Linked DNA regions of Homo sapiens: regions 1 and 2 are each linked to region 3. Evidence: fine-mapped expression QTL. A gene starts in region 3. Each other region holds a variant in brackets. All regions are shown on one strand. Distances are between the middles of the regions. Region 1 overlaps ARPC4-TTLL3 (ARPC4-TTLL3 readthrough). Region 2 overlaps ARPC4-TTLL3 (ARPC4-TTLL3 readthrough). Region 3 holds the start of OGG1 (8-oxoguanine DNA glycosylase).

What was found. PIP is the estimated chance that this variant, and not a neighbour inherited with it, causes the effect. A credible set is the group of variants that fine-mapping cannot tell apart.
Region 1: its variant is the best candidate, but not a certain one, in a credible set for the expression of OGG1 in whole blood (TOPMed, PIP 0.64).
Region 2: its variant is the best candidate, but not a certain one, in a credible set for the expression of OGG1 in whole blood (TOPMed, PIP 0.69).

The regions. Positions count from the first base shown.
Region 1 is chr3:9,827,466-9,835,642 of GRCh38, reverse strand. It overlaps ARPC4-TTLL3 (ARPC4-TTLL3 readthrough), which reads right to left. Exons shown (of 12, transcript NM_001198793.1): 11 at 6,248-6,683; 12 at 1-962. The coding sequence ends at 822. It overlaps TTLL3 (tubulin tyrosine ligase like 3), which reads right to left. Exons shown (of 14, transcript NM_001387446.1): 11 at 6,248-6,683; 12 at 2,398-2,539; 13 at 736-962; 14 at 1-549. The coding sequence ends at 154. Among named protein-coding and RNA genes, the nearest start is that of RPUSD3, 12 kb to the left of the region's middle. RefSeq lists enhancers at 65-564, 7,958-8,177 and a silencer at 8,175-8,177. The variant G/A (reference allele first, on the strand shown) is at 3,725.
Region 2 is chr3:9,796,601-9,804,777 of GRCh38, reverse strand. ARPC4-TTLL3 (ARPC4-TTLL3 readthrough) reads right to left here. Exons shown (of 12, transcript NM_001198793.1): 2 at 7,001-7,119; 3 at 4,482-4,593; 4 at 3,022-3,117. It overlaps ARPC4 (actin related protein 2/3 complex subunit 4), which reads right to left. Exons shown (of 6, transcript NM_005718.5): 2 at 7,001-7,119; 3 at 4,482-4,593; 4 at 3,022-3,117; 5 at 765-935. Among named protein-coding and RNA genes, the nearest start is that of ARPC4, 7.6 kb to the right of the region's middle. The variant C/T (reference allele first, on the strand shown) is at 3,720.
Region 3 is chr3:9,745,734-9,753,910 of GRCh38, reverse strand. OGG1 (8-oxoguanine DNA glycosylase) reads right to left here and starts at 3,959. Exons shown (of 7, transcript NM_002542.6): 1 at 3,488-3,959; 2 at 2,719-2,966; 3 at 1,962-2,141. The coding sequence starts at 3,624. BRPF1 (bromodomain and PHD finger containing 1) reads right to left here. Exons shown (of 14, transcript NM_001003694.2): 12 at 7,981-8,099; 13 at 7,457-7,611; 14 at 5,896-6,745. The coding sequence ends at 6,562. RefSeq lists enhancers at 4,186-4,305, 4,336-4,385.

The sequences.
Region 1 (8,177 bases), 82 kb before region 3:
TCTTTCAGACTCAGTTTCTTCATCTGTAAAGTGAAGGCTCACGCTCCCCACCCCTGGATCGGAGATGCTGGGGGAGTCCCTAAATAGGAAGCCCCATGTCTGTCCTTAGGTGGGAATTCTGGGCCTCGCTGCACGGAGGAGCTGCTGATGGCCTCAGGCTCTTGCTGTGGACCCTGGGGTACACGGCCTCGCCCCATCCACTCTTGACCCTCCAACAGCAATGGAGTCAAGCCCCAAATACTTCACTTGTTTCTTTTTATTTGGTGTTGGATCCAGGACAAGGGCAGTGGGGAATCGAAGCAGGGGCTTCCCTAGCTTCATATCCCCCAGGCCCCTGCGCCTCTGGAATGTACCAACAAGGGGCAGGGGTTTCAGGGGGCTCAGCCTCTTCATGGGGCAGGCCTCAGCCCTGGGTTTGTCACAGTCTGGCCTTGAATTTGCCTTTGGCCTTGACCTTCCGACAGGTGCTAGGAATTGTTCCGACTTCAAAGGGCAGAGGCAACAAGGCACTTCCAGCTGGGGGCCTCGGAGGCACAGGAGAGCAGGAGCCTCGGTGTGAAAGGAGGGGAGAAGAGGGAGATGATCAGAAGTCTGTGGAGGAAGGGGCTTCTGAGGGAGACCAGCTCTTCCCTTGGGGTGCCAGCCAGCCTGGGAGCTGCCCTCTGCCTGTGCCCTCCAGCCCTGACCCCGTGCTCAGCACTGTCCACTGGGTGTGAGTCACAGGTCGAGGCCCACCTTTCTTGGCTTCAGGATGCTGGGTGCCACCTTGAAATCAAGGTTCGGTGGGAGGGAAATGAAGACCTTAGCCGTGGGTAGAGTCCTCAAGGCCTTGCCTGTGGTCGACAGGGCCTTAGTGCCCACCAGCTTGCTGTGCTGTCGTCTGAGGACCTGGCCCTGGTGTCGGAGTACATGGGGAGAAGGCAGCTGGGCCTTGGTGTGGAGGCTGGGGAAGTGGTGACGGGCTGTGGGAGCAAGAGAAGCTGTGAGGCCCTGGGGTGGGGCCCAAGGTGGCCTAGCTGCCCTAACAGGTACGTGTGGAGGATGGGGGGATATGGAGGGAATGGGGTGAAGGCCGACGGAGCCCTCCCGGTTCCTCCTCCAGAGGCAGTGAGAAGAAAACAGGGTAGAGTCCAACAGACCTGGGTCTGCATCCCAGCTGTGCCCCTTCTGAGCTGTGCAACCTTGGGCAACTTCCTTAAACTTCCTGATACCTCGGCTGGAAAATGGGGATAATAGCACCTACCTTGCTAGGTTGGTGTAAACACTAAAGGAGCTGGGCAGGTAGCGGTATGGGGCAAACTGTTAAGTGCTGGACATGTGTTAGTTCTTTCCCCGAGAGGTGACTGCTTGAAGGCAAAGGCAGAATACTGCAGTGGGAAAAGCGTGGGCGCTGGAGAGAGCAACCTGGGCTTAAGTCCTGGCATCTTTGAAATCAGGTCATCTTTGAAATAAGTCACTCTGTGAGGCAGAGTGACTACTTTGGAGGAGACAATACTCATTTGGCTGGGTTTTTTTTTTTTTTTTTTTTTTGAGACAGAGTTTTGCTCTTGTTGCCCAGGCTGGAGTGCAATGGTGCAATCTCGGCTCACTGCAACCTCCGCTTCCTGGGTTCAAGCGATTCTCGTGCCTCAGTCTCCCAAGTAGCTGGGATTATAGGCACCTGCCCCTACACTCGGCTAATTTTTGTATTTTTTAGTACAGATGGGGTTTCACCATGTTGGCCAGGCTGGTCTCGAACTCCTGACCTCAAGTGATCTGCCCGCCTCGGCCTCCCAAAGTGCTTTTTTTGTGTCTTTGTTTTTAAGACAGCATCTCGCTCTGTCTCCCAGGCTGGAGTGCAGAGGTGCGATCATAACTCACTGCAGCCTTAACCTCCCGGGCTCAAGCGATCCTCATTAGCCTCGCGAGTAGCCTGGACCACAGGCTCACACCACCGTGCCCAGCTAATTTGGCTGTGTATTTTTAAACAATACTTTGTGAGTAGTGGCTTTTACTTGCTACTGGTGGCTCTTTGGTGGGGTGGCTGATCCAGGTGGTTGGGAGGGGCCTGGAGAGCAGGAATAAATCGCCTTGGAACACTCGGGTGTTTTGGGGGAATGGTCTTACCCAGGGCCCGGGGGTTCTTCGGACTCAGTGGCAATCTGTTCAAGTGGTGGGGTTGCCTGTCCCCACTAGAAAAGGTCATGGTGAAAATGCAGCCCATCCTGGTGCTGGGGGCATCCCACTCCCAGAGATTGGGGCAGACCAGGGCTGTGGCCCTTTTCGCCTTGCCTTTCTTCCCCTTTCCGGGGGCTGAAGTGGTGGCAGTGGAGACTGGCTTCTCACTGTGCCCCAGGCTCCTGGCCCCAGTGCCTTTCCTAGAAGCTGACCTGTGGGTAGGGGTCCCCGAGTCCTTGCCTTCCCCAGAGCCTCGCTGGGTCAGCAGAGGGACTGCTGGGCGGACCCCCATCCGCCGATGACACATCGCCATGGGCTTCTTGATGGTGAAGCCCTCTACCAGGAGCCGGATGCCCACATATTGAGGCACCTCCACAGCAGGCTGTGGGCAAGAAGAGGAGACAAGGCCCACTCAGTCAGTGGTACTGGAATCCTTGGCCCAGCGGGACCCAGAGTAGAGATGGGTGGAATTACTTTCTGAGGCACCTGGTCAAAGAGGCGTTTCTGAGCTGAGAAATGGAAAGCCCACCTCTGAGTCAGTACCTAGAGTCACAGAGCTCCAGGAATTGCTAGCCCAGAGGAAGGGGGAATCCTAGCCATGTCCCACCAGCACCCCTCAGCCACATTTCCCTCCTAAGCTGCCCCCAGCCCCTGCTGGAATGCGTGTGGCTCCACTGCACAGGCCACTGCTGGTGGACAGCTTCCTGAGCTGAGCCAATCAGATTCTCTGCACAGAGAATTTGAGTTACGCCACCCAGACAAGTAAGAGGTTTGGAGCCTGCCTAGAGCCTCGTGTGAATCCAGGTTATGGGGTAGCAGAAACTAAGAACCTTAAAGAAGACAGTCTGTGGAGAGAATGAAGTAACGAATATGCAGAGGAAGGCAGAGAGAAGGGTCCAGGAGAGGGACTCCCTTACAACTCTCAGTTCCTATCAGGCCAAGCTGTATGTCCTGCCCTCAGCTGGGCTCCAGGAGAGCTCCCTGTGCCTTGCTAGCAACCTGGAGCCAGTTGGAGGTATCTTCTGTGCCACTGAAGGATCCTGATCAGAATCTATCTAAACATCAGAATTACTTGGAGCTTGTTAAAAATACAGCTATTGGCCGGGCATGGTGGTCACACCTGTAATCCCAGAGCTTTGGGAGGCTAAGGTTGGCAGATCACTTGAGGTCAAGAGTTCGAGATCAGCCTGGCCAACATAACCAAACCCTGTCTCTACTAAAAATACAAAAAAATTAGCAGGTCATGGTGGCAGGCACCTGTAATCCCAGCTACTCGGGAGGTCGAGGCAGGAGAATTGCTTGAACCCAGGAGACAGAAGTTGCAGTGAGCCGAGATCGCACCATTGTACTCCAGCCTGGGTGAAAAGAGCGAAACTCCGTCTCAAAAAAAAAAAAAAAAAAAAAATGCAGCTATTGCCGGGCGCGGTGGCTCTCTGGGAGGCCAAGACAGGCGGATCAGCTGAGGTCAGGAATTGGAGACCAGCCTGGCCAACATGGCGAAACCCCATCTCTACTAAAAACACAAAAATTAGCCGGCCATGGTGGGCGCCTGTAATCCCAGCTACTC[G/A]GGATCTGAGGAGAATCACTTGAATCCGGGAGGCGGAGGTTGCAGTGAGCCGAGCTAGCACCACTGCACTCCAGCCTGGGTGGCAGAGTGAGACTCTGTCTAAAAAAAAAAAAAAAAAAAAATCAAATAAAAATGTAGCTATCAGCACTCCCAAGTAGCCCCAGATGATGAGGGAAAGTTCATCTTTACAGAAGAATCTCAGCTAATAAATGCAGAAGGAACAACAGAATTAGACATTTGCCATTTTGCAACTCTAATAAAATAGGCAATAATCAAAACTGGTATCAAAACAATTAGATGAAAGGATGACAGGAAAATGTGTAATCTGGACAGAGCCAACACAGCACCTTACAGAAAAATTAATTGCAAAGGGGAGATGTAGCTTATAATGGAGAGAATCTGGTAGCCACCACTGTAACCCACAGTCAAACTCAGCAGCACTAACTGTGAGACACTCTCACAGGATGTGCCTTGTGATGCCACATGAGGTACGCGGCATCACCTCTGAAGTGCTCTTGGGAAAAATGTTTAACCTCATCAAACTATTTGACCTAACTTCTAGTTCCTGAGACAATCAGCTAACAGAAGACCAAGGTAAATCACACCATAAGGAAACAATCAGATAAATCCAGAATGTGGGACAGTTCTACAAAACAACCCGCCTGGCCCCTCAAAAGATCAAAACTATGGGGTCAAAAGGCACTGGGGCTGGCCTAGATGAAAAGAGACAAAAAAAAACAGTGCAAGGTATAAGCCTTTACTATGTGCTGGCCTAAAAACAAAAACAAGAACAAATCAGCAATAAAAGACATTTAGAGGGCTTGGCGCGGTGGCTCATGCCAGTAATCCTAGCATTTTGGGAGGCCGAGGCGGGCAAATCACGAGGTCAGGAGATCGAGACCATCCTGGCTAACATGGTGAAACCCCATCTCTACTAAAATACAAAAAATTAGCCGGGCATGGTGGCAGGCACCTGTAGTCCCAGCTACTCAGGGGGCGGAGGCAGGAAAAGCGCTTGAACCCGGGAGGCGCAGCTTGCAGTGAGCCGAGATGGTGCCACTGCACTCCAGCCTAGGCAACAGAGCAAGACCCCGTCTCAAAAAAAAAAGATATTTGGGGGGCATTTGAAAAATGCAGATATACATAGTCTCCTCCCCAAGCTAGACATTTTGGGTCAATCTCTGGGGGTGGAGCCTCCTCACATCCATACCTTTAGAAGCTTTCAGATGCTTCTGGCCTGGGCACTGGCATTGGGAGCACTGCACTACAATGGCACCTTTTCCCTCAGCTTGCTCATATTTTCCTGCCCATGTATTTCCCCGTTTACATTTTTTGAAACCAAAACGCCAATATATTAATTTAAGAAATGATCAATAACAACTGTAACAAAGGCGAGGTCACTTAGGTCATGTGATCAGTACGTTCTCTTCCTGTAACCAAACCTTGACAGAAACCGGAGGCTAATCAGAAGCCACTTAAACTGCCACAAGAAATTCTATCCAGAACTCAGAAAGCCTTGCAATCAATTTTCTGACTGATTTTTTAAAATGCTGTTCTATTTTACAAGTAGACTCCAATCTCTTTTTGGAGCAAGACGAGTGAAATAATTATAATACTACTAATAATAGTAGCTACCAGTAATTGCCTATTACTATACATTCAGGCACTTTACAGGTTATACATGATGAAACTCCTAACCTTATTAGGTAATAATAACATTAGCTAAAACTTAGTAGCATTTACTACGTGCCAGGCACTATTCTAAAGTACTTTACTGGCTGGGCACGGTGGCTTCTGCCTGTAATCCCAGCACTTTGGGAGGCCGAGGTGGGCGGATCACCTGAGGTCAGGAGCTCGAGACCAGCCTGGCCAACATGGCAAAACCCTGTATCTACTAAAAATACAAAAATTAGCCAGGCGTGGTGGTAGGCACCTGTAATCCCAACTACTTGGGAGGCTGAGGCAGGAGAATCGCTTGAACCCAGGAGGTAGAGGTTGCAGTGAGCCAAGATCATGCCACTGCACTCCAGCCTGGGCAACAGAGCGAGACTCTGTCTCAAAAATAAATAAATGAAGTACTTTACTTATCAACTCATTTAATTCTCACAACTCATAGTACCTAACTTTGTGAGTTAGGTACTATTTTTATTCTTACGGACAAGGAGACCTAGGGGTTAGGAACTTGTCCAAAGTCACATAGCTTGTTGTCACTGAACAGGAATTTGAACCCAAGGAGATTCCAGAATCTCTGCTCTTATGGCTATGCTATATGCCTCTCTAGAAATATTATCCTCATACATGAATTCATTTTATTCTCCCATTCCCATGAGAAAGATGGTAATAATATCCCCATTTCAAAGATCAGGAAACTGAGGCTCAAGGAAGTGAGGTCACCTTAGCAGGACCAGGACTTGAATCTGGGTCTTAAACTGGGTCTGACTGCAGAGTCCTATGCTCCACTGCAGGGCTGCCTGGAAGAGGGTGCAGACTCTCTGGGGTCCTGCCTGGGCCCAACCTCCTCACCTGCTTATAGATGAGCTCAAAGGCTCCTGTGTCACAGTTGCGGTCCAGCATCCGGTCAATGACCACGCGCAGGGTGTCAGCTTGCACGCCAGCACAGAGCCGGGCAGTGACTGCTGTGGAGGGTGCCATCGTGGGGCTGGCGTTGATCTCAATCAGCCAGGGCTGGAAGTCCTCCCCGAACACGAAGTCAGCGCCATAGAGCTCAAAGCTGGCCTTCCGACACTGCACGGTGTCCTGGGAGGTCTGAAGTGCGTGGATCACAGCATCCTTCATGCCAGGCACGATGATGGTGGACCAAGCATTTGGGGCACCCATCTCCTGCAGGTGGGCCTGGAACCTCTGGCTAGACCACATGTTGTCTGGCGGAAGCAGTGGATGCCGATGGCATGAGTTCTCCAGGTGCTTCTGGATGGAGTTGTTGCACAGGTGCACTGAGCTGGGGCAGAGAACAGAAAACTGAGGTCCAGGCCCTTGTGTCTCTCCCATCCAAACTCAGGGAGGACAGGCAAGTCCTGGAAGCAGCCCTGGGCCACCCTGCACTATTCAACTTGAGATGGGGCCCTACTGGGAAGGACAAAAAGGACAGAGGCCTGGGCCCCACCACATTCTTCTAGGGCCAGAACCACTCTTATCTCTCAGGGCTGCTCTGAGGGCGCTAGTTACGGGGGCCGCAGTAGTAAGTGCTTTGTGCATAGTCTCAGTTAACCATCCCAGTGTCTGGAAGATAAGAGGGTGGGTAAGGGTATGGCCCCGTCATCGCCAGGACGTGTTCAAGCGCCATCTCCACACTAGTTGTGAGACCTTAGGGAAGTCATCTAACCTGTGTGCTCTTCACATCTGCAAAATGGGGGTAGTAACAGTACCCACTTCACTGTTTTTTATATTTTTCTTCAGACCTGGTGAACAAGAAGTATGCACTGGGTTCTTATTAAGAATGAGATCATGTATACAAAGTGCTCAGCACTATCACATATGAAGCACTCAATAATTGATAGCTATGAATTTCATACTACTGCCTCCATTCTTCAGATGTGGAAACCAAGGCTTAAATAGGTTTTCACATGACCAGATTCAAACAACTTGGAAGCTGCAGAGACAGAATTGGAATTCAGGCTTTAACAAGGCTTTCTCTCACCCTAGAAGTTAACACGACATCTTAGTTTTCAAAACTCCTGACCTCCTTTCCCCTGCTCTACATTTGCTTCCCTTTTTCCCCCAACGACAAATATAATCTTTTTTTTTTTTTTTTTTTTTGAGACAGATCCTTGATCTGTCACCCAGGCTGGAGTGCAATGGCACGATCTCAGTTCACTGCAACCTCCACCTCCCAGGTTCAAGCAATTCTCCTGTCACGGCCTCCCGAGTAGCTGGGACTACTGGCGCCCGCCAACACGCCCGGCTAATTTTTATATTTTTAGTAGAGACGGGGTTTCGCTATATTGGTCAGGCTGGTCTCGAACTCCTGACCTCAGGTGATCCACCCACCTCGGCCTCCCAAAGTGCTTGGATTACAGGCATGAGCCACTGCGCCTGGCCCAAATAATCTTTTAACCTGTTAGATAATTTCACTTGTGTTCTTGCTTGCCTGTTTCTCCCTGCTAGAATGTAAGCCCTTGAGAGCTGGGATCTTGTTTTGTTCACTGCTATACCCCAAGTGCCCAGAACAGTGCATGGCACAAGGTACACACTCGGTCAAATCTGTTGGAGGGGCCAGGCATAGTGTAATCCCAGCACTTTGGGAAGCCAAGGTGGGATGATCGCTTGAGCCCAGGAGTTTGAGACCAACCTGGGCAACATAGTGAGACCCCATGTCTACATTAAAAAACTTAAAAATCAGCTGTGGTACATGCCTGTGGTCTCAGACACTTGGGAGGCTGAGGAGGAAGGATTGCTTGAGCACAGGAAGTCAAGGCTACAGTGAGCCGTGACC
Region 2 (8,177 bases), 51 kb before region 3:
GGTATAATTTCCATTTTTAGGAATCTGAGCTCCTTCTGGACTGGGTATGTACTTACTGGTGGGAGTACACACTAAGTCTACCGTCTAGAGATCACAGCCACTCTGGGTGGCACATGTCAACAAACCAAAGATTGCTTGGAAAAAGGAGAAAAAAAAAGGCATGTTCTGAATATCTAAACAACTAAGAACGATGTCACCAGTTCATCAATGTAAACAATTCTACCTCTTCAGATGACTAAAGTGCTTTCAATTAGAAAGACATAAACAACGTAAGAGGAATCTGGAGGACTTACGCCATGCAAGTGATGGAAAACAGGTTGAAGGAATCATGATTTAAGCCTGAGAAACATGCTGAAGGAAAGTACTGAAGTCTATTTGAGAAGTGGAATCATAACATGATTAATTGTCCTATACTCCTAGAAAATTCACATGCAGACTTCACTTACCTCACTTGGGGTTTAAACGAGATAGAGGCAAGGACTTTGTGAACATCCTGAGATGTAGAAATGAGTGACCAAGTTCCTACGAGAGACTAAGAGCCACCCCAGACACCCAAATATAGAAAATGCCTTGTAGCTCTCAGAGATGAACTTGGGGTCCTCTAGCTCCAAAGCACCTGACTGACCTGCTGTGCCCCAGGGGTCCTAGAGAGCTCAGGAGATATAAACACACTGCTTGGACCCCTTTCCCACCAGATGCTAAGTTCTCAACATGACCCCCAGATCCTCTGGCCTCTGGAAGGAAAGCTAAAGGCCCCTACTCACATTCTTAAGGAACTCTTCAGCCACAATGCGGGCACGGGCATTGACTGACAGCTTCATCTCACTGATCTCCTTGTCAATCTCCTCCATGAAGTGGATCACAAAGTCCACCAACTTGTGTTTGTACATCTGCTCTGTGTGGAAGTTGGTGATCAGAAAGCTGATATCATACCCCTAGGGAAGAAGACAGTAGGGAGGGGGAAGAGAAGGAACAGGAGAGAATTAGCACCCCATGGGAACTGAGCTGGTCATGTCCTCCACTCATCCACATGCTTCCCACTGGCTGTGATCTTCTCCCAAGCTACATACCCTTCCAGTCAGCAGCCCAGCTGCTCTGGGGGAGGGTGTCTAGGTTGGATCCAAGCAACTGAACCCCGTTGAGAATTCTGTGTGTATCAGACATCTCTGGAAAACTATCTGTGGCACAACAGCTCTGCATTCAGAATGAGTCAAGGAACTTGAAGTCTTGTTACAGAATAATCTAATCAAACAACAGGGAACATTTAGTCCAGAGAAGAGATGATGTGGAAGATGGGTGGGATTAAGGGTCTTTTTCTGCTGGAGGGCTGTGGGAGGAAGATCAATTTTATTTATTCCGGGTGGCCCCAGAGGTTAGATCTAGGACCAGGAGAGAAAATTTGGCTCAGAATGAGGAAGAACTTGGCTAACACGCCTGACGTGTCTGATGATGGCACATGCTGCTGTGTGGTAGTTGCTTAGTCACTGGGGATATTTTAAGTTTACCTGGCAAGGAGTCTGTGGAGAAGATTCAAGTACAAATTCAGGCAACAACTGACCCAATGTTAACTGTGGCTTTAAGAGACTGATTCAGTGGGCCGGGCGCGGTGGCTCACGCCTGTAATCCCAACACTTTGGGAGGCCGAGGTGGGCGGATCACAAGGTCAGGAGATCAAGACCATCCTGGCTAACACAGTGAAACCCCGTCTCTACTAAAAATACAAAAAATTAGCCGGGAATGGTGGCGGGCACCTGTAGTCCCAGCTACTCGGGAGGCTGAGGCAGAAGAATGGCGTGAACCCAGGAGGCGGAGCTTGCAGTGAGCCCAGATTGCAGACTATGATTCACTTTGGGAGGCCGAGGCAGGCGGATCACCTGAGGTCAGGAGTTTGAGACCGCCTAGCCAACACAATGAAACTACTAAAAATACAAAATTAGCTGGGCATGGTAGCACATGCGTGCCTATAATCCCAGCTACTCGGGAGGCTGAGGCAGGAGAATCACTTGACCTGGGAGGTGGAAGGTTGCAGTCAGTGAGACTGCGCCACTGCACTCCAGCCTGGGCAACAAAAGCAAAACTCCATCTCAAAAAAAGAAAAAAAAAGGCCAGGCGCGGTGGCTCAAGCCTGTAATCCCAGCACTTTGGGAGGCCGAGGCAGGCAGATCACGAGGTCAGGAGATCGAGACCATCCTGGCTAACATGGTGAAACCCCGTCTCTACTAAAAATACAAAAAATTAGCCAGGTGTGGTGGTGGGCGCCTGTAGTCCCAGCTACTCAGGAGGCTGAGGCAGGAGAATGGCGTGAACCCGGGAGGCGGAGCTTGCAGTGAGCCAAGATTGTGCCACTGCACTCCAGCCTGGGCGACAGAGCGAGACTCCGTCTCAAAGAAAAAAAAAAAGAGAGAGAGACTATGATTCATTTGGCAGATCTTAGAAAGGATTTCTAATTCACTGTGCTCTTTCTGATGCTAGACTATAGGCTCCGGGAATAAGCAATGTGTCTTATCTTTTTTGCCTTTTTTTTTTTTTTTTTTTTTTTTGAGACGGAGTCTTGCTCTGTCGCCCAGGCTGCAGTACAGTGGCACGATCTTGGCTCACTACAACCTCCGCCTCCCAGGTTCAACCAGTTCTCTGCCTCAGCCTCCTGAGTAGCTAGGATTACAGGCGCCCACCACCATGCCCAGCTAATTTTTGTATTTTTAATAGAGATGGGGTTTCACCATGTTGGCCAGGCTGGTCTTGAACTCCTGACCTCATGATCCACCCACCTCGGCCTCCCAAAGTGTTGGGATTAGAGGCATGAGCCACCACGCCCGGCTCTTTTTTGCCTTTTCTATGGCTGAGGTAGACCCAACTTTTCCTAAGCTTCTAATCCTCTTTGCTCCCACTCCAAGATGAAGGCCAACTCTCAATTCAGGCAGTGGGTGCCAAACAGCTGGAGTAGCTGGTTCTAGAAACAATCCCAGGCCATTCTGTAACAGGGTCCTGGGTATCGCAAACTCATGGGTCACAGGGTCTCACCTCCACAGGCTTCCTTCGAAGGATAAAGAAGTTCTCTGCTCGCATCATCATGAAGCGCATGAACTTGTGGCACAAAATCTTCTCGATCTCATCAGCCTGGGGAGTGCAAGAGAGAAATGTTTCTCTAAAGCTGACACCCAAGGCCAAAAACACCTTGTAGCCTGGTCTTCTGACTCCAGTTTTTTCAAGGCTCCCAGGAGACAGTGAGGTTTGGTACTCGGAAGGATCACTGAAGTGGGGGACCTGGCTGTCAACTGAAACAAGGGTCTACCTTGGGGCATCTCTTAATGACGACCCATTCCAGAGAGGTAATTCTGACAGGCTTCTATTGCTTCTTTCAGAGTCTACAGCTGTACTCCAAGCTGCCCTTTCCATTCTCATTTCACTAGTGTCACATTTCCCAGGGTGTTTTGCAGCATCACCTGGGCTATCAGAGATAACCTTAGGTGGTCTCTGCTTTAATAACACTGAACATCCAACAATCCCTGAAGTTTCTCCCTTCTGAATGCTCAACATTTCTTTTTTTTTTTTTTTTTTTTTTTTTCTGAGATGGAATCTCGCTCTGTCACCCAGGCTGGAGTGCAGTGGTACGATTTTGACTCACTGTAAGCTCTGCCTCCCGGGTTCAAGCGATTCTCCTGCCTCAGCCTCCCAAGTAGCTGGGATTACAGGCGCGTGCCACCACGCCTGGCTAATTT[C/T]TGTATTTTTAGTAGAGACAGGGTTTTACCATGTTGGCCAGGCTGGTCTTGAACTCCTGACATCAAGTGATCCACCCGCCTTGGTCTCCCAAAGTGCTGGGATTACAGGCATGAGCCACTGTGCCTGGCCCTGAACTCTCAACATTTCTAAAGGAAGATTATTGCTGCTGGTTGCTAGCATGCCCTTAACACCTCTCAACACTTGTTAACCTCCCATTTTAGCAAGGAAAGCAGGCCCCAGGTTTATAAGTTTCTGTAGAAAACAGTGTGTAGTCTGCATTTAATAACAGTGCTTCGTTTTCATCCTGTTGAAAGTTTAGAGTTGCCCTCTACTGGCCAGGCATGGTGGCTCATGACTGTAATCCCAGTACTTTGGGAGGTTGAGGCGGGCCCATCACCTGCGGTCAGGAGATGGAGACCATCCTGGCAAACATGGTGAAACTCTGTCTCTACTAAAAATACAAAAATTAACTGGGCGTGGTGGCGGATGCCTGTAATCCCAGCTACTTGGGAGACTGAGACAGAAGAACTGCTTGAACCCGGGAGGCAGAGGTTGCAGTGAGCTGAGATCATGCTGCTGCACTCCAGCCTGGGCGACAAGAGTGAGAATCCGTGTCAAAAAAAAAGGAAGCAGAGGCTAGGTTTCCTGCACTCTGAATCTGGAATCTGGCACACTGATCTCTCAGATGGGGACCCCGGACTGAAAGAGGCTGAAAGGACTGAAAGAGGCCTTACGTTGGGCCTCCTCCATGGTGAACTTACCTGTTTCACAGCAATGCTGACCCGGACAGAGTTGATGGAGCCCTCAATCAGAACCTTTTCCTTCTCATTCCTGCTGATGGTCACAGGTTGTAACAGGAGCTCTTTGCTACTCCTGAAAACATAATGTGACAGAGTACTTGTACTACAGAGGGATAGAATAGTCAGAGTGACCCCACGCAGGTCCTGGAATCACTATGAGACCATAGAGTCCAAGGAATAGAAGACTCACAAGCAGGAGTGCTCCAAGATGGGGGCCAGTGAGTGTGTTCTTCAGCAGAAAGAGCACAGGCTCTGAAGTCAGGGCGAAAAGGTTTTGAAATCCAGCCTCCTCTGTTACTTTCCTTGGGCAAGTTACCCTGTTGGAATCTCAATTTTCTCATCTGTAAAATGACTCTGATTCCTAATTCACTGGCGAGGACTGAGAGAGATCAAAAAGGGTCAAATGTCTAATAGCGTGCCTGGCACATAGTAGGAGCTTTACAAAAGATAGCTATTTTAGTAACTACAAGTTGAACATCCCCAATCTGCAAATCTGAAATCCAAAATCTGAAACTGGCTGGGCACAGTGGCTCATGCCTGTAATCCCAGCACTTTGAGAGGCTGAGGCTGGTGGATCACCTGAGGTCAGGAGTTCGAGACCAGCCTGGCCAACATGGTGATATCCCATTTGTACTAAAAATATAAAAATTAGCTGGGCATGGTGGCGCACTCCTATAATCCCAGATACTCAGGAGGCTGAAGCACGAGAATTGCTCGAACTCAGGAGGTGGCAGTTGCAGTGAGCCAAGATCATACCACTGTACTCCAGCCTGGGTGACAGAATCAAACTCCATCTCAAAAAAAAAAAAAAACCTGAAAGTTTCCGAGTGCTGACAAGATGCTCAAAGGAGATCCTCATTGGAGCATTTTGGATTTGGAATTAGGGATGCTCAACTGGTTAAGTATCTGCAAATATTCCACAATCTGAAATACTTTTGGTCCCAAGCATTTTGGATAAGAGATACTCAACCTGTACAGGCAAACCAATATACCATTTAGGAATACAGAGAGAACACCTGTCTTAGAGGTAAGGAAAGGCTAAAATTGAACACAGTTTGGCTTCCTTTAATTATCAATCCAGAAATGATTCATTTGCCTCTGAGACCCCTATGAGTTCAGGTTACAAAGTAATGCCTCTGAATACCTAGAGATCTCTAATAGTAATTAATTGTGGTGTGGTGTCTCTAAACTGCTAACCATTTTCAAAGGCCCACTGGAAATCGTGTACGTTACACAGTATAACAGGGCATATCCTAACATCTTTATCAGTTATTTTTAAAATTAAAAATTAAATCGTATCATTTAATGTTGTAACCCAGATTATCTCAGTTATGTATGTACCAGAATGAATTTTATTTTATTTTATTTTATTTTATTTTATTTTTGAGACGAAGTCTTGCTCTGCTGCCAGGCTGGAGTGCGGTGGCACGATCTTGGCTCACTGCAACCTCCGCCTCCCAGGTTCAAGCAATTCTCCTGCCTCAGCCTCCCGAGTAGCTGGGACTACAGGTGCATACCACCATGCCCAGCTTATTTTTGTATTTTTAGTAGAGACAAGGTTTCACCATGTTGGCCAGGATGCTCTCGATCTCTTGACCTCATAATCTGTCTGCCTCGGCCTCCCAAAGTGCTGGGATTACAGGCGTGAGCCACTGTGCCCGGCCTATTTACTTATTTTTTGAGACAGGGTCTCACCCAGGCTGGAGTGCACTGTCGCAATGTTGGCTCATTGCAACCTCTGCTTCCCAGGCTCAAGAGATCCTCCTGCCTCAGCCTCCAGAGAAGTGGGACTACAGGCATGTGCCACCATGCCTGACTATTTTTGCATATTTTTTTGGTAGAGATGGAGTCTTGCCATGTTGCCCAGGCTGGTCTTGAACTCCTGTACTCAAGCGATCTACCCACTTCAGCCTCCTAAAGTGCTCGGATTACAGGGGTGAACCACTGCACCAGGCCTCCAGATTAAATTTTAAAGGGGAAAAAGATATTTATGAAATGGAAACTAGATAAGAGAAAATCATTCAAAATATGAAGTATTTGGATTAGGGGGTCAGAGTGTCTAGGCTGGTAGGTAAAAAAAAAATCCCTGATCATTACATTAGAAAAGTATGGAGATGGGAAAAAAAAAAAAAAAAAAGAAAAGTATGGAGATGGAATCTCAGATAACAATTATCTGACCATTCCTTAAACTACCAGTGTTTTCAACAATGCCACAGGAGAGACTTCATCAACAGCCCTGCTCTGAGAAGTCATACCTTGTGTTAACCAATCTTGTCTTTTCCCCTGGGTTCTGTCCTGCCAACCCACTGACCCTATTTTCTTAACTCCAAATTGGGAATCACCATTCAGCTGGCAGCAAGACAAAATGTCAACTGCAGCTTTCCTGACTACTGCAGGACATAAGTTCATGGCACCTTCTAGACAGCAGCCATCTCTGTGTGCTGCACCCCTCATCCCCACCTTGACTTGTCCTTCCCTACCTGACTTCCACTTCCGGCTTGTTGTGTCGTTCCACAACCTGGGAGGAGAAGTTCTCCAGGCAGAGGGCAGCCTGCAATGTGGCCCGCACGGCACTCAGGTAGGGGCGGAGAGTGGCAGTCTATAGGAAATAACACAGAGGAAAGGGAAGATCAAAATCTGTCACGCCAAACCCACCGATCCCCTATTCCAGCTCCCATGAAGCCAGGTAGCACTGAGGGTGCAAGGCTCTTAAGACACTACTGTGAACAGAACAGACTAGGCCTTCGAGACGCCTTCCAAGGTGTAGAGTGGTAGTTTTCAACAGGAGACAATTTTGCCTGCCAGGGTACATTTGGTAATGTCGAGACATTTCCTTTCTTTCTTTTTTAACCTGGGGTCAGACCAGAGGAATGCTGAGACATTTTCAATTGTCATGACTTGGCAAGAAGGGGAACTGCAGGCATTCAGTGGACAGATATCCACTAAACATACTACAATGCACTACAAAGAATTATCGAGACTCAAATATCAATAGTGCTAAGGTTGAGAAAGTGATCTAGAGACACACCAGTGAATGCATGATTGTCGTCAATCTATTAGGCCAACAAATGTATAGGTGTACTGTTTGCCACGCACTGAGCTAACTGGGAATTCAAAGATGATTAACACTGTCTCTACCCTCAAACAGCTCAACTGGATAGCAAATATACAGAAAATAACTATGATATAAAGATGACATGTGAAATATTTAGATTTACAAGTAATCTATATTTGCAGAAGAAACTGGTTTTGAAGGTGAAATGGGATTAGGAGGAGAAAAAGGAGAATAAGGACATTCTTTTTTTTTTTTTTTTTTTGAGACAGAGTCTCGCTCTGTTGCCCAGGCTGGAGCGCGGTGGCACGATCTCGGCTCACTGCAAGCTCCACCTCCCGGGTTCATGCCCTTCTCCTGCCTCAGCCTCCCAAGTAGCTGGGACTACAGGCGCCCACCACCACACCCGGCTAACTTTTTGTATTTTTAGTAGAGACAGGGTTTCACGGTGTTAGCCAGGATGGTCTCAATCTCCTGACCTTGTAATCTGCCCGCCTTGGCCTCCCAAAGTGCTGGGTTTACAGGCGTGAGCCACCACACCCTGCCAGAATAAGGACATTCTTAGGAGAGGGATTAGCTTCTAGCTGCACTGGTCAGTCCTTGTA
Region 3 (8,177 bases):
CCACCTTGGGCTCCCAAAAGTGCTGAAATTACCAGCATGAGCTACCCCACCTGGCTAACGCCGTGCTCTTAACCCATTACACTACACTGCCTCATGATTGCTTTATTCACTCCCAAAGCCCTTCTAGATAGAAACTGTTATTCCCATTCTACAAACAAGCTAAGAGAAGCCGGAAGAGGTGAATGACTTTCTTGAGGCCTTATGACTAACTAAGCCAGGAGCTGAGACTCAAGAACAGGTTTCTTTTTTTTTTTGTTGAGACAGAGTCTCACTCTGTCGCCCAGGCTGGAGTGCAGTGGCACGATCTCGGCTCACTGCAAGCTTCGCCTCCCGGGTTCACGCCATTCTCCTGCCTCAGCCTCCCAAGTAGCTGGGACTACAGGCGCCCACCACCACACCCGGCTAATTTTTTTTGTATTTTTAGTAGAGACGGGGTTTCACCGTATTAGGCAGGATGGTCTTGATCTCCTGACCTCGTGATCCACCCGCCTCGGCCTCCCAAAATGCTGGGATTACGGGTGTGAGCCACCACGCCCGGCCAGGTTTTTTTTTTTTTTTTGAGACGGAGTCTCGCCCTGTCGCCCTGTCGCCCAGGCTGGAGTGCAATGGCATGATCTCAGCTCACTGCAACCTCTGCTTCCCAGGTTCAAATGATTCTCCCGCCTCAGCCTCCTGAGTAGCTGGGATTACAGGTACCTGCCACCACGCCCAGCTAATTTTTAGCAGAGAGCGGGTTTCACCAGGTTGGCCAGTCTGGTCTCAAACTCCCGACCTCAGGTGATCCACCTGCCTCAGCCTCCCAAAGTGTTGGGATTACAGGTGTGAGCCACCGTGCCTGACCCAGGTTTCTTTTTGTTTGTTTTGAGATGGAGTCTCGCTCTGTAACCCAGGCTGGAGTGCTGTGGTCTGATCTTGGTTCACTGGAGCCTCCTGCTCCCGGGTTCAAGCAATTCTCCTGCCTCACCCTCCGGAGTAGCTGGGACAGGTGCCTGCCATCACGCCTGACTAATTTTCGTATTTTTAGTAGAGATGGGGTTTCACCATGTTGGCCAGGCTGGTCTTGAACTCCTGACCTCAGATGATCTGCCTGCCTCGACCTCCCAAAGTGTTGGGATTACAGGCGTGAGCCACCACGCCCGGCCAGGAATGGGTTTCTAAGCACCAAAAACATTCTCCTGTTTTGAGGCAGTCTGTCTCTTTGCTATGCAGTTCCCAAGCACTTGTCCTAGCTTGGTTCTCACATCTGCCAATCGATACACTTGCCTCTGTAAAACATTTGCCTTACAGGGCTACTGTGAAGAACACACGTGTTCTTAGATACAAAACTATCCCATTCACTACAATGATACCAGCTTGAATTTTTTTTTTTTTTTTTTTTTTTGAGACAGAGTCTCGCTCTGTTGCCCAGGCTGGAGACGGGGTTTCACTGTGTTAGCCAGGTGTGAGCCACTGCGCCTGGCTGATACCAGCTTGAATTTTACATATACTTCCTGTGTGCCAAACACTGTGCTAGGTGCAGTATGTATATTCCTTTCTTCAACCCTCATGACAACTCCAATAATAGCATAGGTAGGTGCTATTATTATTCTACTTCACAGATGAAGAAACTTTAGTACAGAGATGCTAAATAATGTGCCCAAGTGAGAGTTGGGGTTCAGAACCAGGCATGGGTCTGTCCCCAGAATGCATGCTCTTAACCCCAAACTACTGTACATTGTATACAGATATTTTTCTGATTAGGCATTGAACCCATTGGGCAAAAAGCACAGACCAGTGAGGTGCTGACATTTTAGGGATGCATAGGGAGGATGAGTAACTGGAGTTGATCAGACCAGGCAGGGCGGTTCTGGATAGGGGAAGTGTTTGGGAAGGCAGGAAGCCTTGAGAAGGTAACCAGGGGAGAAATGAACAGATCTTGAAAGCTGATGGAAGGCCTGGGGGCAGGGGACCCACCTACTCACCAGCCAGGGCCTGCAGGCTGGGGAAGCCATGGTAGGTGACATCATCAAGCTGGATGAGCCGAGGTCCAAAAGCCTGGCACAGCCGCTCCACCATGCCAGTGATGCGGGCGATGTTGTTGTTGGAGGAACAGATAAAAGAGAAAAGGCATTCGATGGGGTCTTGTCGCAGCAGTCGCACACCTGGAGACCAGAAATGCAGGGGGTAGGAGAGGTACCTGCTGTTGGGTGTGGCCTCTTCCCACCCACAGGTCAGATCCTAGGTACCAAAACTCCAGGAGGATCCCAGGAGAATGAGAGTCAGCACCGTTAGAGAAAGCAACACCAGACCTCTCATTCCTCATAGCATCTTGTGAGGGCTGAGTTACCATCCCATTCCACAGATAAAGAGGCCACAATGTAAGCTCCATGAGGACTGGCATTTGGGTCTGTTTTGTTCACTGGTGTATCCCCGGTCACACAGCAGATGCTTTGTATATATTTACAGAATGAATGAAATCACTTGCCCTAGGTCACACAACCAGGAATGGGCTCAAAATCCTTGTCACTTCACTATGGTGATTAGCAGGATAATAATAATGGTAATAATACTTACTATGTGCCTGGCATTATTCTAAGCACTTTACATGTATTAGTTCCTTAAATCCTCATAAAAGCCTATGAAGTAGATATAATCCCCATTTTACAGGTGGCAAAACTGAGTCATAGAGAAGTGACTTATGTCCAAGAACCCTAACCCCAGCCCAGGTCCTGTACTCACCTTGGAATTTCTGAGCCACCTCTTGGAAGTGGGAGTCCACGGAACCCCAGTGGTGATACAGTTGAGCCAGGGTAACATCTAGCTGGAAGTACTTGCGCACGGCCTCCAGCTCGTCTGGTGTGGGCCTGCTAGCCTGGCTCTTGTCTCCTCGGTACACAGTGCAGTGGAGCTGCTCCTCAGTCTGAGTCAGTGTCCATACTTGATCCGCTAGTACACCACTCCAGTGTGCAGGACTTTGCTCCCTCCACCTGAGCCCAAGGCACATGACAACCCTGGCACTCAATTTCCTTTCTTGCACCCTTTGGGGTCCCTCCTATCCTACAATAGCTCCATGTACGAAACTAATACAAGTAACAGTGCTATCTTCCAGTCTGAGCAACATGGCGAAACCTCACCTCTACAAAAAATACAAAAATTTAACCGGGCATGGCGCACACCTGTAGTCCCAGCTACTCGGGAGGCTGCGCCCGGGGGGTCGAGGCTGGAATGGGCCTCTCTGCATTCCTACCTGGGCAACAGAGCGAGACCCTGTCTCAAAAAAAGAAAAACAAGTGCTATTATCTTCTGCATCGGTTATACCGCTGGATCCTTACAATTATCACTGTACAGACATATTAAAGGTAACAGGTTGGCTACCCGTGCTTGTTTCCTCTTTTGTACCCCGGGTTTCTTCCATCATCCCCCAAATTCCTTTGTACCCCATGCCAGGCAGTGTTGAGGCGGCAGGAGCCAGTCCGAGGGGACAGGCTTCTCAGGCTCAGTCACTCACCGGAAAGATTGTCCAGAAGGCAGAACCAGGTCCAGGCGCAGCTCAGAGCGAGGGCACGGGATGGAGGCCCACAGGGCAGGAGTGGAGGCTAGAGTACGATGCCCCATGCGCCTGGGCAGAAGCGCGCGGGCAGGCATTTCCACAGCAGGCACCGCCCCGTAGTAGCCCCGCCTACCCAGAACCAGGCCTCGTCGACGCCCAAAGACCCCGCCCAGACAAGGACCACGACCCTTAAGGCCTCGCCCACACGGTGCTGTTTAACAACCTTCCCTGTTTCACTTAATTCCTCCACCTCCTGCATGCCTCGCCCTTTGCGGGTCATCAAAGCCCCGCTTCGTGCCCCAATTCTCCGGCTTTCCTGAGGTGTAGGTCCCGCCCCCTCCTTGCGACTTATCTTCTCCCGCCCCCAGAGCCTGTGGGCGCGCACAGCTGTGTTCTTCTGGGTTCTCCAGGGGCAGACCACAGCACCACCGGAAGTAGGGCTCAACCACCGCTCATTTCACCTAGAGGTAGCCAATCCGAGGAGGAGGTAGGAGGCGCCAATGAGAAATCAGGGTGGGCGGGCCGTTCTGAGGCGCTCGCGCGGTTGGCCGGCACTGGGCTCTCTGCCAGCTGCTCGCCTTTCCCCCTCCGGGATTGTCTGCACTCGGGGCGCTAACGAGTTCCATCTGGGCGCCCCGCGGTTCCTCAGGGCTGTCCGTCTTCAGAGCCACGTCCTTCCCCAGCCCGTTCTCCGAGAGCCGTTCTCCCCCGAGCCTTTGCAGTCTTAGGCGTTCGCCCTCCTTGGGCCGCCTCCCACGAACCCTGTCTTCACCAAGAACCGGAGCGAACACAGCTCCGGCCCCAGAGCCCTCGGGAAGTGTCTCCAGAGTATTATTCTCTTCTGCGCCCGCCCGCTAAGCTTGTCCCATTCAAGGCCTTTAGGCGTCCTCTGAGACCTCAGGACATCAGAGGCCTCTCCTCGGATTGTCGTCCCGCCGGCCGCCACAGCTGCTGCCTGCCGTCTTGGGCATTTCTTCCATACTCCATCTGCTCATGCTTTCCTCGGAATGGGACGTTTGCCGGGGGTTTGTCTGGGGCTGGGCCCAGAAGCCCATCAGGTTGAGTCCAAGTCCCAGTGTGTGGCCCTGAGGCAGCCTGCCTTCTAGTCGCCTGGAGTAGGAGGATGGATTATTTAATTTCTTCCCTTCTGGAGGATGGCATGAAAAAGCAGGGAGCTAGGAGACATGACCTTTATCTGGGCCATTCTCACCTTTTAGCATAGGGATTTGGGGTTGCTGTATCTTAACTATCAGGCTGCAAGTTTTTTTTCTTTGAGACGGAGTCTCACTCTGTCGCCTAGGCTGGAGTGTGATGGCGCGATCTCGGCTCACTGCAAGCTCCGCCTCCCGGGTTCAAGCGATTCTCCTGCCTCAGCCTCCCGAGTAGCTGGGACTACAGGTGCGCGCCACCACGCCCAGCTAATTTTTGTATTTTTAGTAGAGATGGGGTTTCACCATGTTGGCTAGCATGGTCTCGATCTCTTGACCTCGTGATCCAGCCGCCTCGGCCTCTTAAAGTGTTGGGATTACAGGCGTGAGCCACCGCACCCCGCCCAGACTGCAAATTCTTGAAGAGCAACATCTGCAGCGGATTGACCCTTGTGTCCCAGCCAGAGACCTAGCGGAGTGTACCGTCAGCATGGAATCAACATCAGACCAGTGCCATCATTGTCTCAGTGCCAGTCCTCAGTGGCTGCAAGGCCTGGGCCGCCCCTTCTTCCTGTGACTGTTCCTATCTGTAGGCATGCCATCCCACAGGCGCCTAGCACTTGGAAGGCATTCCTTCAATAAATGTCGGTGGAGTCTGGAAAGAAGGTGCTGAGGTTGGGGGTGAGCAAAGAGCAACCGTCTCCATCCCAGCTCTGTCTCCGGTTAAGCAGTGGGGAAGGTCTCAGCTGTATTGATGCTGAAACACTTGGGCCATGCCACTGGCAAAGGACTTGAGGCCTCTAAGGGCCAAGTAGGAATCGATAGTTGACTCTTCCCCTGGCAGTTCAGCATACTGGTTGAAGAGCCAGGTTTGCAAACAGACCTGGGTTCCAATTCTAGCTCTGCACCTTCCTAGTTGTAGGAACTTAGGCAAGATAATTTTTTGAAACTTCAGCATCTTTGTGGAGATAACCAGTCTATTATTAAACTACCCTATAGTTATTGCAAGGATTACGCAAAGCTGAATGTCTAAAGGTGCTCAACACAGGGCCTGCCACTCACTCCATGCATGGGCAACAGGGGCTCTCTTTGCTGTGTCTTATGAAATGTAGCATGCACAGCAGTCAGCAACCACTTGGGCCCAATTATGTATCATCCCTGGGGCACAGAACCTCCCTTTGTATCCCCTTTGCCCTGGCAGGGGGCAAGAACAAAGAATTCTAAATTGACAGTTTATTTTCTAAGAATCAATATATTTTCTTCCTTTGAAATAAATACAAACCAGTTTGAAAGGTGGGGGAATCTATGGGAAAGAGAAGGGAAATGGGGACAGCCCCCAGTCTTTTTTTTTTTTTTTTTTAGTACCAAATGACTCTGGCGCGACCCGGAAACGCAGTTACAAATGAGAATAATTTAAATTCTCCGATAATTACAGTATTTACAACAGCAGGGGAGGGAGTCACCTAGTGCCCCTCTTCCAGGCTGGACAGATGCCCACTCACCTCACGACCGGTAGGGGCCCCAGGCCTCTAGGCAGTTATGGATTCTCCTGGCATGAGCAGGTAGAGGTGGTGGGATGGCCTGTTTTACGCAGTGTCCTAACTTTGGCCCACCACCCCGCCCTACAATGCTGTGAGGTCTCTGGAGCTTTTTCTGACCTGTGGGCCCTCCCTCTCCTTGCGCTGAACTGCCATTGGCCCTTGGAGTGTTCTGTACAGTCCAGCTGCACTTAGGGCAGGAGGGACCTCCCCCACCCAGCTTCCCCTGAGACTGGCCCCAAGACCAGAAATGAGTCAGTGCAGAGGCCGGTGCCACTCCAGGACAGTGAGCAAAGGGGAGGAGAGAAGTCACAGGGCACTATAGGTTGGGCTGTGTTGAGCAGTATCAATCACTATCGCTGGTCTCACTGCTCTGCTCGCCTTGCACCTTGCTGCGGTGCTGCAGAGCCCTGTGGTAGGCGATCTGTACTGACTTGCGGATGTTGGACTTGCGGCCCTCCAGCATCTTCTCCTTGTCTAGGTCCTGGTTCACACCCAGAGGAACCAGCTTGGTCCTGGGCAGCCACTGCCTATAGGATAAGGTGAAGATCAAATAAATCATCTCAGGGAGAACAAGGACCAGCCTTCCTCCTCTATTCACTCAAACACACCACCCAAGCACCCACTCTGGCCAGACTCTGTGATGGTCCCTGCCCTCAAAGGACTGTTCATGGTCTAGAGATGAAAGAGCCCAGTCAACAGTTATACTGTGTGGTGGCGGCGGGAGGGTAATCACAGGGTATTTATGGGTACAAAAAGGAGGCACCCTGACCTCACCAGAAATAGCTACCCTGTGCCATAGGCTCTAGGCAGACTTTACTGACATTGAATATCCTCTGCAGACAATTAACAAAAAGACTACATGTGTAAATGTGACAGAACAGGGATTCAGAGCCTGAATGTTTATGCCTGCTTTATCCTCATTTTGTCACTGTGGAGGCAGAGGTGGGAAAACTAAGTCTAGAAGCCATCTGAGTCTGGGTGGGAGCCACCTCTATATTTGTCATAAGTCTCTGATGGTCCTTTGGTTTCTAGCTATAGCTGTGTCCACTAGTGCCCACTCAGCCTCTCAGACACATGGTCGACACAACCCTTTCGCTCAAAAAACTGTTCTAAGTCCCTCCCCCACTGACTTGTGATAGCCCAGTCTGCCTGTTGCTGGAGTTTCCTGGCAGTCTGCCCCCATACCACACAGGGCTGCATCTGTGGCTGTGAGTCACACCAAATGCTCCCCTCCTTACCAGGTTCGTTTGTTGTCAAAGAAGAGGACGAGGTAGAGATGCTCTCGGGCTTCCTGGGTCATCTGCTCCCCAAGTTTCAGCACCTCCAGTGGGGGCACAGGGATGGGAACCCCATGGTGGAACATACCTTCTCGGGGCATCTTTGGATCAATGATCTGAGGATATAATAAGAGCCCAGTTTGGTTCAGTCCATGTCCTCCCAAGGCTTTTCCTCCTCAAGAACTTAGAGAGTATGTCTGAAGTGGGGACAGAGAGGGTATCATGCTACTAGAACTGCAATGCTGACCCTCAGCTTCTTTCCATGCTAAATTATTTCAGAGCCCAAGGAGCAAAGAGAAGCAAAAGGGAGAGATGGAGAAACTGAGTGGGAGCCTCTAAGTGGTACTCAAGCTGTATCTGCCCACCAGTCTACCTTACCAAGAAACTCTGTGCCCCACAGCTCAGCAGGGAGTAGGAAAAGTCTGCTAACTGTGAATCTGTATTCTGGGATTGGAAAGCAAGAAGTGTAACAGAAGCAAGCATACCAGAGCTGGGTATGATGGATAGCCTCGGCATTTGGCCCACACGAGGTCCAGAGCATCCAGCGGGGAGTCCTCATCCTCTGACAGCCAGCCAGCTCCCCGGCCCAGACTCTTCCTTACCACTTCACAGGAATGGGGGAGAGGGGGTGGATCAGCAGCTGGGGGGCTGGCGAGACCCTGACACTGGGTCCCCAGCATCC